Linked DNA regions of Homo sapiens. The protein of the gene in region 1 interacts with the protein of each later gene in a pairwise test. Each region holds a gene or a part of one and is shown on either strand. Other genes may lie near its edges.

Region 1 (3,647 bases):
CGCGGGGATCTTGAGGTCCCGCCGGGGGGACGTCCCTCCCACCACCTTAACCCCTGAACTTCGCCCCTGAGAAGACGGAGGAGGAGGAGGAGGAGGCCAGGTTGTATCCCCTGGTCTCCCAACGAGTAGGAAATGGAGTGGGCGGCAAAAGCCCCGACAACAGGGGGCTGGCACCCCCAAAAGGAAAGGAGCCCTGGGGAAGGGGAGCGCTAGGCCTGACTCCTGAAATAGCCTCACGCCAGGAGGAGAGGGCTTAGCTCACAGTGACTCAGGGCACAGCAGGCGTGGACATCAGCCCGGGACAGACTCTCCTGGCAAAACCCCCACTCATTCTTATTTCCCCTGCCCCGCCCCCACCCTTAGACCCCCACTGGGCACCAGCCCAGGGTTGGGGGGGGCCAAGGCTGGTGTATGAAGCCAGCGGGGCTCCAGTTTGCTGGACTGGCGGGAAGGTGGTGATTGATTAATAAAAAATAATTGGGGCCGCCTGTAATCCCAGCACTTTGGGAGGTCGAGGCAGGCGGATCACGAGGTCAGGAGTTCGAGACCAACCTGACCAACATGGTGAAACCCTGTCTCTACTAAAAATACAAAAATTAGACAGGCGTGGTGATGCGCGCCTGTAATCCCAGCAATTCGGGAAGCTGAGGCATGAGAATCGCTTGAACCCCAGAGATGGAAGGTTGCAGTGAGCCAAGATCACGCCACTGCACTCCAGGCGACAGAGCAAGACTCTATCTCAAAAAACAAAGATAAAAAAGAGAGAATTGCATTTTCCAGCCCAGAATAGGGTCCCAAGGGGGTTCCTTGTGTGTTCTTTCCCAGGTTGAGGATGGGGGAGTGTGTCTGCCATGCGGTAGGAATGGAGGCTTCTCTGGGGTTCACAGAGCAAAGAGAGGTCCACCTGGGGGTCCTCCATGAGGGCGGGCTGCTCTCAGAGCAGAGAGACCCCCCCTGGGAAAGGACCCTCTTCTTTCTCCCTGAAGGCAGGTGTCCAGGCCACGGAGGACAGGAGGAGGGTGGAGAGGAGAGAGGGCTTCCCCTCCCAGGACCTGCCTGCCTGCCTGCCGGGCCCCCACACCCACTGCCCTTCAGTCATTCTGCCCCGTCCCCCCGTCACAGAAACACTCTGGTCACTCAGCCACCTGCAGCCCACCCCCCACACCCACCAGCTCCAGACCACACCCACACCTCCCACCACCCCTACCTCCAAGGCGCCCCTCAGGCCTGGGCCTCACCCCTCCAGAGCCTCTTGCAGAAAACAAACCCTTGGGTGACCCCTTCTGGAGGTGGATGTCTGGGCCAAGAGCCTCCTTGGGTCACACTCAGCAGGCAACCCAGGCTGGCTGTCCCTCCCAGGGACCCCCCTGCCTCCACCCCAAGCTGGCTAGAGAAGGAGCCTGGGCTCAGGAGGGGAGAGGTGGGAAGGCAGACCCAGGCTTCTGGGCACTTGGCCCAGCTGGACCTTATGCAGATGGACAGCCTCCTTCTGAAGCCCAGAGCCTAGGCAGGAGCTGAGGCCACACCCCCGACTCCCAGCTGCAGGAGCTGGTTCAGGAATTAAGAATAGGGCACAGAATGACCTTGGTATCACTTCACCTCCCCCAGCCCAGCCAGCAAAGCCCCAGGCCCGGTCCAGGTCATCCTCGGCCACCCCCAACTGCAGCTGCCCTCCACAGGAGCCAGGGACAGGACAGGGTCGCGGCTCCATGAGGCTTGCTCCAACCTGGCCAGGTGGGAATCCTGCCCCACCTCTTGCTGACATGGGGCTGGGGTGGGGTGGAACCCTGTCCGCCCTCTACCTCAGCTCTGCTCCATCCAGCACACAGGGCCCCCCCGGACACCACTGCAGGTCTGAGCACACCTGACCCCACCTCCGCAAAAGTTAGGGAAGCCTCTGCTGCCGGAGGCGCGGGAAAGCCAGTGTCTCCCGCGAACACTGATGGCCCACGGCCCTGCTCAGTGTCCAGGATTCCCTTCCGCAGCGCCTCCCGGCGACTGGGGGACCTTGGCGGCAGCCGGCTCAAACCCTCGGAAGTGAGTCCCTGGGCCCGACAGGTCGCCTGCCTGGAGGGGCGGGGCCGAGGCAAGGATAACGGCTGCACCGAGGAGGGAGCGGGCGCAGAGGAGGCACCGGGGCCCCGCGCAAAACTGGCCACGACCCGGACTCGAACCCCGACCCTAGGAGAGGCGCAGTGCCCGGGTGGCCCTGTCCGGCGCGCACGTGTGCAACGTGTCCCGTCTCATCAAGTGAGGAGAGGAGAGGAGAGGAGAGGGGACCAGGGCGTGGGGCAGCCGCTCTGAGTGCAGGGGGCGGACCCCGCGATGGTGCAAACCTTCCCCACCCGCCCAGTCCAGGCTCCTAGCCGGAGCAGCGGTCTTGGGTCCTCCCGGGACCATCCCCACAACCGCACCCAACGCCTGGCCGGGGCAGCGACTCCGACTCCCCAGACCCCGCGACCCGCCGCGGGAGGGACCCCGGGTCTTTCCCGGGCCCCCACCCCGGCCCCCGGACTCACCCAGAAGAGCAGGTTGAAGGCGAACATGAGGTACTTGACGGCCTGGAGGCAGGCGCGCGCCATGCCGCAGCGCTTCAGTTCTAGGAGGAAGATGAAGGAGAGGTCCAGGTAGAAAACCACGTACTTGTTGCCCTTGGGCGACGTGTAGCGCGCCTGGGCCGCCTTGGGGCCGGGGTTCGCGTGCAGGCCGAAGAAGGAGCCCCCGGCGTCCCCGCCGCCCGCGCGCCCGTATAGGCTGCTGTAGCGCCGGAAGGGGCCGCCGCGCGCGAAGTCCGGCTCCTTGCCCTCCGGAGAGGGGCTGCGCCGGTACGTGGACTCGTCCGTGCTGGAGCGGCGCATCGCGCCCGGGTGTGCCGGGGCCGCCGCTCAGCGCCCCGCACCCGCCGCCCCGGAACGCCCCATCCCGCCGGCCGGCGCCTGCTCCGGCCCCGCTCCTGCTCCCGCTCTGGCCCCCGCGGTGGCAGCGGGTCGCGCGGATCCGCTCGGACCCCGGCGGCGGAACCCAAACATCTGCCCGGCCCGCGCGCTGCGGCCCCCGCGCCCCCGACCCCGCGCGCCCCGCCCCGCGCCCTCCCGGCCAATCCCCGGCGGCTCCGCCCCCGCGCGGACCCCTCCCCTCCTCGCCGCACCGCCCGGCAAACCCCAGCGCTCCGCCTGGGCGGACCAATCGCAGCCCCCGGCAACGCACCAGCCGCGACCCCGGCCCCTTCGCCCGCGCCGGCGCCCCAGCCCCCCCACCTTCGCGCGCGGGAGGAAGATGCTCGCGAAGGGCGCCTGAGGGGACTGGAGGCCGGGGCCGGGGCCTGGGGATGAAACCTGGGCAGCTCTTAGCCCGCGACCGACACCCCCAGCCCTTCCCCCCACGGTACCTCGCCCGGACTCTGGCCCCGGGCCGGGCTTGGAGACCTCCAACCACGAGAACGATACTCAAAGCACTACGCAAATGGAGGGTGACCCCGTTGCTGTCTGGTGGCAACTTGAAGCGGCTCCGCCCCGGGCGCCCTTGGGGAAGCCCTGAGTGCCGGCGGCGGGTGGGGGGCTGGGTCAGCCTGCACTGCATGGAGCAGGTGTCGTTGAGTCTTTGACTATATGGGAGGTTCCAGAACACAGAAAAGCGCAGGTGTGATT
Region 2 (3,647 bases), on another chromosome or scaffold:
GGCAGATCCACAGGACAATTCTGGATGCTGTTCTGCAGGCTTCTTAGGAGGTGCTAGTGGAGTTCAGCCCCCTTTGCCCTCAAGTCAACTTCAATAATGTTAATATATCCTTAATGGCTTTCTTCCTGCTCTGTTTCATTCTTCCCACTCACCCTCCTGCTTCTTGTGGTCACCTCCAAAAAACCATACCTGTACCTAAATCCTTGTCTCAGGCTCTGCTCTGAGGAATACCCAAGATAAGTCTTTTAAAATGTATCACACACTACCTGCTTCCTGAAGCAGAAAATATGAAATAATGATTTTGCCTTTTTTGATGCTGCCATGTCTAAAAATCTGTGATTCAATAATTATAAATATCAGTGACTGTCTTTTGTTATGGCGTTTAGCAGTTACAAAGGAGTAAAGGGTATTGTGCCTGAGAAGGCTCTGCTTTTAAGGGTTGTCTTGCCATCTGTCACTTCTTGGGCACTTATTCCTCAACCCCTAGCCCTCTGATTTACAGCTTAGTCACTGCTCTGAGCCAGGAAATGGTATCCAAGTTTGCTAAAACTGTGTCTGGAACTAAAAGAGGATGAGCATGAGCTAAAGTACATGAGCTTAGGCTGGGTGTGGTGGCTCACCCCTGTAATCCCAGCACTTTGGGAGGCTGAGGCGGGCAGATCACCTGAAGCCAGAAGTTCAAGACCAGCCTGACCAACGTGGTGAAACCTTGTCTCTACTAAAAATACAGAAATTAGCCGGGTGTGGTGGCACATTCCTGTAATCTCAGCCATTTGGGAGGCTGAGGCAGGGGAATCACTTGAATCTGGGAGGCAGTGAGCTGAGATTGTGCGACTGCACTCCAGCCTGGGTGACAGAGTGAGACTCACTCTTTAAATAAATAAATAAATAAGTACATGAGCTTAAAGGGATAGTGGTGTAATGTAGAGTTTAAGCACATACAAGTTTTGAAGTTAGACATATCTGTATCAGATGCTGGCTTAACCGCTTATTAGCTAAGTCTGTTTCCTCATTTAAAAATCAAGTTATACACTTAAAATATATACAACAAAAATAAAATAGAGTAAAAAAACAAAAGTAACAAATTGGGATGTCATAAAAAAATGACAGAGCAGGGAACTCCAAAGGTCCATTCTGCCACTAAAGTGAGGAAAAAACTGGTAAAAATGTCAGAATCAACCTTTTTGGAACTCTGGAAACTAACCAAAGTTTGCAACAAACAGAGGAATGCTTAATTTAAAAAAGAAAAACAAAAACCAGGGCCAGGTGCAGTGGGTCATGCCTGTAATCCCAGCACTTTGGGAGACCAAGGCAGGAGGATCCCTCGAGCCCAGCAGTTTAAGACCAGCCTGGGCAACATGGTGAGACCCTGTCTAAAAACAAAACAAAACCAGCTGAATCTTGATAAGAGAACTTTCTGGTGTTGTAACCTACCCTGGTCCCATCACCCACTCTCCAGCTTGGTGGTGACCTTGAACAACAGTCCACACTCCCAGTACTGGTGTACAGAAACAGTACTGGATACCAGTACCTGACGGGGCAGGACGAACTTATTTTCAAAAAATTGTGGTTGTTTGTTTTGACCTGCCTGTCACCTCCCTGGAGGACCACCTCAAAGGGCCTGCTTTCATCTTAACTAACTAGGAACTATCCTAGTGCTGAGGGGGTTACATGAAGGATGTTTATCAAAAACATTTCGGCCGGGCGCGGTGGCTCACGCCTGTAATCCCAGCACTTTGGGAGGCCGAGGCGGGCGGATCACGAGGTCAGGAGATCGAGACCATCCCGGCTAAAACGGTGAAACCCCGTCTCTACTAAAAAATACAAAAAATTAGCCGGGCGTAGTGGCGGGCGCCTGTAGTCCCAGCTACTTGGGAGGCTGAGGCAGGAGAATGGCGTGAACCCAGGAGGCGGAGCTTGCAGTGAGCCGAGATCCCGCCACTGCACTCCAGCCTGGGCGACAGAGCGAGACTCCGTCTCAAAAAAAAAAAAAAAAACATTTCAAGGTAAAATGTATTAGTCTGTGCTGTCTAGGGCAAAGGATAACAGCTGGGGCATCCAACACACTAACCAAAAAGACTGGGAGGAAAAGCTGGGAAATGAGAAGCTCTGGGAAATAAGAGCTTTGAATAGCTCTGACAAGTTCCTGGAATTTAGAAGGCCACAGGCATGTCTAAGGCTGGGCACATGCTCAGAAAAGGCCACATGTGGCTCACCTTCAGGCTCTAGTCATGCAGGAAGTGAAGGCTAAGGCAGAGTTGTAACCACCTGACCATGTTGAAGACATGCTCCAATATACATTCTAGCTCCTGAACCAACCTCCCCCTACCCCTCTTACCTGTGCCTGTGATAAGTGTAACAAAGTTTTCCAGTCCCTTTCCTTGGCCAAATTTCCTTTCCGCCAGGGCAGCACAGTTGCCATCATTGTCTACCCACACAGGGAGATGCAAAGTGTCAGAAAGGGGGGTCCTAAGGTCCACAGAGTTCCACTCTTGGATCAGTTTGGTTGAATGCAGCACAATTCCTTCCCGAGGATTTACACGGCCACCTGTGGAAATGCCTGCGCTCCACCACAAACACAAGGAAATAATGCTGATGAGCAATCTCAGGAAAGTATGCTGACTTTCTTGTCTTAAGAACACAGATTCATTCACCCCAGATCTCCTAAGACAAACGTTACCAAGGACTGCAAGGAAATATTAGACAGTTGTGAATTAAAGCCATAGCACCTTAAAGATTTCTAGAACTGTCAGTGCTTCTCTCCTAATGCTTGTTGGTGTCCCAGGAAGTCCCCATGCTTGGGGCCCACAGACAGCACCTAGAGCCATCTATGCACAGGGCAGACACTGACTTGATGCTCAGGCATGCATCACAAGTTAGTAAATTTTGTACATTAAAATGAGCATTTCTTGGATTTATAATTTACAATCTTACCTACTCCCAAAATTCTGCAGTTCAGTTTTACAGCTTCTGCTGCAGCTTCCACACACATCTGTAGGATTAAATTAATCCTCTCTTCATAGGTTTTAGGATTGAACTGAGTATACTTCTTAACTATTTCACCCTAAAAGAGAAAACAACAAGTTCCGTCTTACTGGTCTTAGCTAAGCAGCATATTGTGAGTGTTGTGATCTTTTTCATGACAAATTAGACACTGCTATAGGATGGCCCCGCAGTCTTAGATGACTGCTTGGGGAAGGACCCACTGCCTGGTCTGGGCCAGCCCTGGGGTAAGCTCAAGTAGTTCCTGTAATCTGTCCTAATATGGGGCTGTTGAAGCAATGACAACTCCACAGGCAGCAAGATGGGCCCCTCTCTTTTTTTTTTTTTTGAGATGGCCTCTCGCTCTGTTGCCCAGGCTGGAGCGCTATGGCGCGATCTCAGCTCACTGCAACCTCCACCTCCCAGGTTCAGGCGATTCTCCTTCCTCAGCTTCCCAGGTAGCTGGGATTACAGGTGCCTGCCACCACGCCCGGCTAATTTTTGTATTTTTAGTAGAGATGGGGTTTCACCATGCTGCCCAGGCTGGTCTCAAACTCCTGACCTCAAGCAATCCGCCTGCCTCGGCCTCCCAAAGTGCTGGGATTACAGGCGTGAGCCACTGCCCCCGGCCGGGCCCCTTTCTTAAGCTTAAGTTCAATGTTCGC
Region 3 (3,647 bases), on another chromosome or scaffold:
CATAAAACTTAAGGTTGGATAGAAAAATGATGTTGTATTTTTCAGAATCCATATAATTTGGAAATGACACATGGAGAAATAAACATATTTCGTCCTCCAAATTTAAACAAATGCTTGCTTTTTAAATTGAAAACATTTGTGCAAATGAACGTATTTTTACCACTTAGGGTGAAACTGTTCAGAAATTACCTGGATCTATACAACTCCAAATAGAGCAGAAAGTTGAAATTTATTTGGGAAGCCTGGGCTGCATTAATAAAAAAAGAAAATAAATCCAGGTAACTTGGGCTTTATGATCTATTTTGTGTTCAAACATCTAGATTTGCTTTTTAACATTTACTTCCAGTCATTCTCAACCCCCATGTTTCAGTTTTACCCTGTTACCTTTTAATTTCATTTTAGGGGATAGTTTCTAGATTGCTTATATAAAACTTAATATAACAAAGCCAACCTATGTCAAGTCTAAGACATGTTTCTCCCACCATAGTAGGTGATTTTAGTTTAAAATGCAAAATTCTGAAACACAGGCATACTTCTGAGGTTCCAGCATTTAAATTCTTAGCAGTCTGTAAGGGTAGGAAACGTGTGTTTCCTGAATAAAGCTTTCATTGAACATGCAGTAATTTCTAACACTCTATTTCTTGCCATCATCCTCAAGGCTTTATGCCAATTTGAGTGCTGATGGCATTTTGCTTCAGGTATACATTTTCCCAATAACCTGAAGCCTTCCCTACATTTGTGTTTAAGGACAGGGAGAGATCATTATGGTTCAATCACCGAATTCCTATCATTAACTGCACTTCATGTCACATTTTTAAAGAACTCAATTTAATGGTAGAAAGCCACTGGGTAAAACCTGCTCCGGTTCCCTTAATTAACAGTTCTGTGGGGTGATTCTCCCCCATCTTGCCCCCACCCTTTCAAGTATAGATTTGTTTTCGAGGGATTGCTGCAGAAAAGAGAAGCTGTTGGGGAACACTTAATTGACATTTCTGGACTCAGAATGTATTACCACTCTGGTATTTTGGTCAACTCTCCATTATTTAGAGATAATTATATTTGTAGATTATTCATAATTCTTGTTTTTTTCTTTCCCCCTTTCTGCTGCCAGTTTCACTGTCCTTCAGCATTTTCCACTGAAATCCTGTAAAAATCAAATCTGCTAAAGGAATGCAGTTACTTGAAAGTAGCTCTGATAAAGCTTGAGTAGTTAAAACAAAAAATGGCCAAACTCAGTGGCTAAAAAATAAAATAAAATGACCAAGATTCTGCATTTAAAACATCATAATCCCAAATATCTGTAGGGCACTTAACGTATTGCAGTCTTTCCCCAAACATTTTCTCATTTCTCTGCAGAATTCAGGTAGTGATATTTACAATCTGAAGATCAAAAATAATTGTTGCTTGTTGCTATGTATATCCCTCCACAAATGTGCATTTTTACAAAACTTTATAGCTTTTGTTTAATAATGAACTATCTGTACAGCTCTTTAAAGATTATAAAGCACTTTCATATATATTTTTATCTCATTGAATACACAGCTCTTCTCTGAGTTTTATTCATTGATAGGGAAACAGGCTTAGAATGAAGTGTCATGCCCAACATGATACAATTGGAAGGTGGAAGATCAAGGTCTTCTATTTGAGTCTTCTCTCACTAATTCTGGTGTACTCCCAGATATATCCTATTGGCCTCCCAAATCCAAGTTACCCAGTCAGCATCCTGCTTTCTCTTTCTTTCTACCCTGTCCAGCACTAGAGGATAAGGAATAATTTGTGTGGGTTTGTAAATGACTGAAATAATGGCCAGTGGGGTGAGGAGTGAGAAGGATGGCACAGAAGTAAGTGTCTGATAAAGTCTGGGAGTCAACAGCAAAAGGTAGCACAGCAAAAGAGCAAGGTCTTTTCCCTAAGTGGCAGAAATAACACTGAACTCAGGAGTCAGGACAAATCAGCTGGAAACATCTCATGGGCAGTTAAATCACTGCTTACAGCCTGCATAAGGCTTCACCGCTCCAGGCCTCAGCTTCCTCGTGGGTAAAATATGGGGGAGGCTGATGGCCCTCCCACTGTAAAATTTCTCCGTTAGGCCTATGAGGGAATGAATTATGTCTACACCTGGCACCGCATGTGATACAGAGGTAGGGAAAGGTTCCTAGAGGACACAAGACCCCAAGTTCTATCTTCTATGGAAAGAGGCAGCTCTTTCCATAGAAGAAGACAGTTGTCCCTGTCTCCTAGAGCTGCAGAGCTGTGAAAAGGGAATGGACTTTGGGGTCACGCAAACGTGGGTTGGCATCCTGCCTCCATCTCCCTTCTCTGAAGGTGTGTCCTGAGGCAGCTGATTAACCTCTTCAAACCTCAACATCCTCATCTACAAAACAAAGAAAATTAAAACACTGTTTTAAAACACTGTTACTAAAAATAGCTAGTGAGTGGCCAGAATTCAATCTTAGATGTGTCTGACTCTAGAGCCCCAGCTCTTACTGTAAGGATTAAATGAGACACAAATGTCCAGGGCTTGGTACGCACACACTATCCCCTCAGACACCCTGGATGGACAGACAAAGCAATGAGGTTTTTGCATTTTCGAAGTCACAGGTCCTTTTAAGACTCTGCTGAAAGCTCTCCAGAAAAATGTTCATAGGGCAGTGTCAGGCCAGGAGGTTCACGGACCCCCGGAGTCCGTCTGGGGTGGCCTGCTGCACATGGACCTCAGTAGAAAGCCCCTGAGAAAATGGATGTGAAGGTGCTAGGAAGGGCTGTAGGAAAGCATGATGTGCCGATTACAGCTCTCAAACCGGGAAGAACAAGGATGCTCCTACACTCACTTAGAAGCTCCCTTCAGTGAGGGGGCTGGGTGCGGAGGGGAGGGGGCGGCGTGCGCTCACCTTGAAAAAGCCCTTGCAGCCCTCGCAGGTTCGCACGCCGTAGTGCTGGCAGGCGGCGTTGTCCCCGCACACGGCACACGTGCCCTCGCCAGACGACGAGCTCCTGCTGGGCGGCGACGGCAGGCTGGGACTCTCGCCCAGCAGGCTGGACGCGGTAGGGGAGGGCGTGAGGCCGAGAGGCGGGAAGGCCAGCGGGGCCGCCCTCTTGGCCAGCGGCAGCCCGTACGGGTGGCTCTCAAGCGCGGCGGCCTGGCTGCCCGCGGCGGCTGCGGCTCCCAGCGGCAGGCTGAGCGCGGCAGCGGCCGTCGGGTCGTAGCCGAGGTGGTGGCCGCCGGCCGGGCTGGGCGCGGGGGGATGCGGCGGCGAGGGCTTGAAGTGGAAGAGCGGGAAGCGCGCGCCGGCCACCGTGGGGACCGCCTTCATCGGCGGGTCCAGCAGCGGGCCGGGTGCGATGCAGCCGGGCGCCGAGGGCAGTGCCTCGTCCCATAACGCCCCCGCCTGCGGGGGGAAGGCCGGCGTGGTGGGGGTGGACGGTGGGGACTGCTTGAAGTACATGGAGGTGCTGGGCAGCACCTCGTCCTCCGGGCTGGAGGCTGGAGGAATGGATGGCTGCTGATGCTGCTGCTGGTGATGGTGGTGGTGGTGGTGGTGGTGGTGGTGATGGTGATGGTAGCTGGGCGCCCGCCCCTCCTCCACTTTGATCAAGGGCCGCTGCATTTGGTACACGCAGGAAGGCTTGAGTTCGTAGTTGCTCGA

Evidence for each region.
Region 2: the proteins of TSPAN4 (region 1) and GNE interact in binary tests that used the Homo sapiens proteins (3 or more experiments, as listed by UniProt).
Region 3: the proteins of TSPAN4 (region 1) and NR4A3 interact in binary tests that used the Homo sapiens proteins (3 or more experiments, as listed by UniProt).

What each region holds. Positions count from the first base shown.
Region 1 is NC_000011.10:849,240-852,886, reverse strand, and holds part of TSPAN4 (tetraspanin-4), read right to left. Parts: intron 3,032-3,647; exon of another isoform or gene 2,859-3,031; coding exon of another isoform or gene 2,583-2,858; coding exon 2,520-2,582; intron 1-2,519. UniProt on the Homo sapiens protein: Structural component of specialized membrane microdomains known as tetraspanin-enriched microdomains (TERMs), which act as platforms for receptor clustering and signaling.
Region 2 is NC_000009.12:36,220,439-36,224,085, forward strand, and holds part of GNE (bifunctional UDP-N-acetylglucosamine 2-epimerase/N-acetylmannosamine kinase), read right to left. Parts: intron 3,065-3,647; coding exon 2,935-3,064; intron 2,561-2,934; coding exon 2,339-2,560; intron 1-2,338. UniProt on the Homo sapiens protein: Bifunctional enzyme that possesses both UDP-N-acetylglucosamine 2-epimerase and N-acetylmannosamine kinase activities, and serves as the initiator of the biosynthetic pathway leading to the production of N-acetylneuraminic acid (NeuAc), a critical precursor in the synthesis of sialic acids.
Region 3 is NC_000009.12:99,828,238-99,831,884, reverse strand, and holds part of NR4A3 (nuclear receptor subfamily 4 group A member 3), read right to left. Parts: coding exon 2,892-3,647; intron 1-2,891. UniProt on the Homo sapiens protein: Transcriptional activator that binds to regulatory elements in promoter regions in a cell- and response element (target)-specific manner.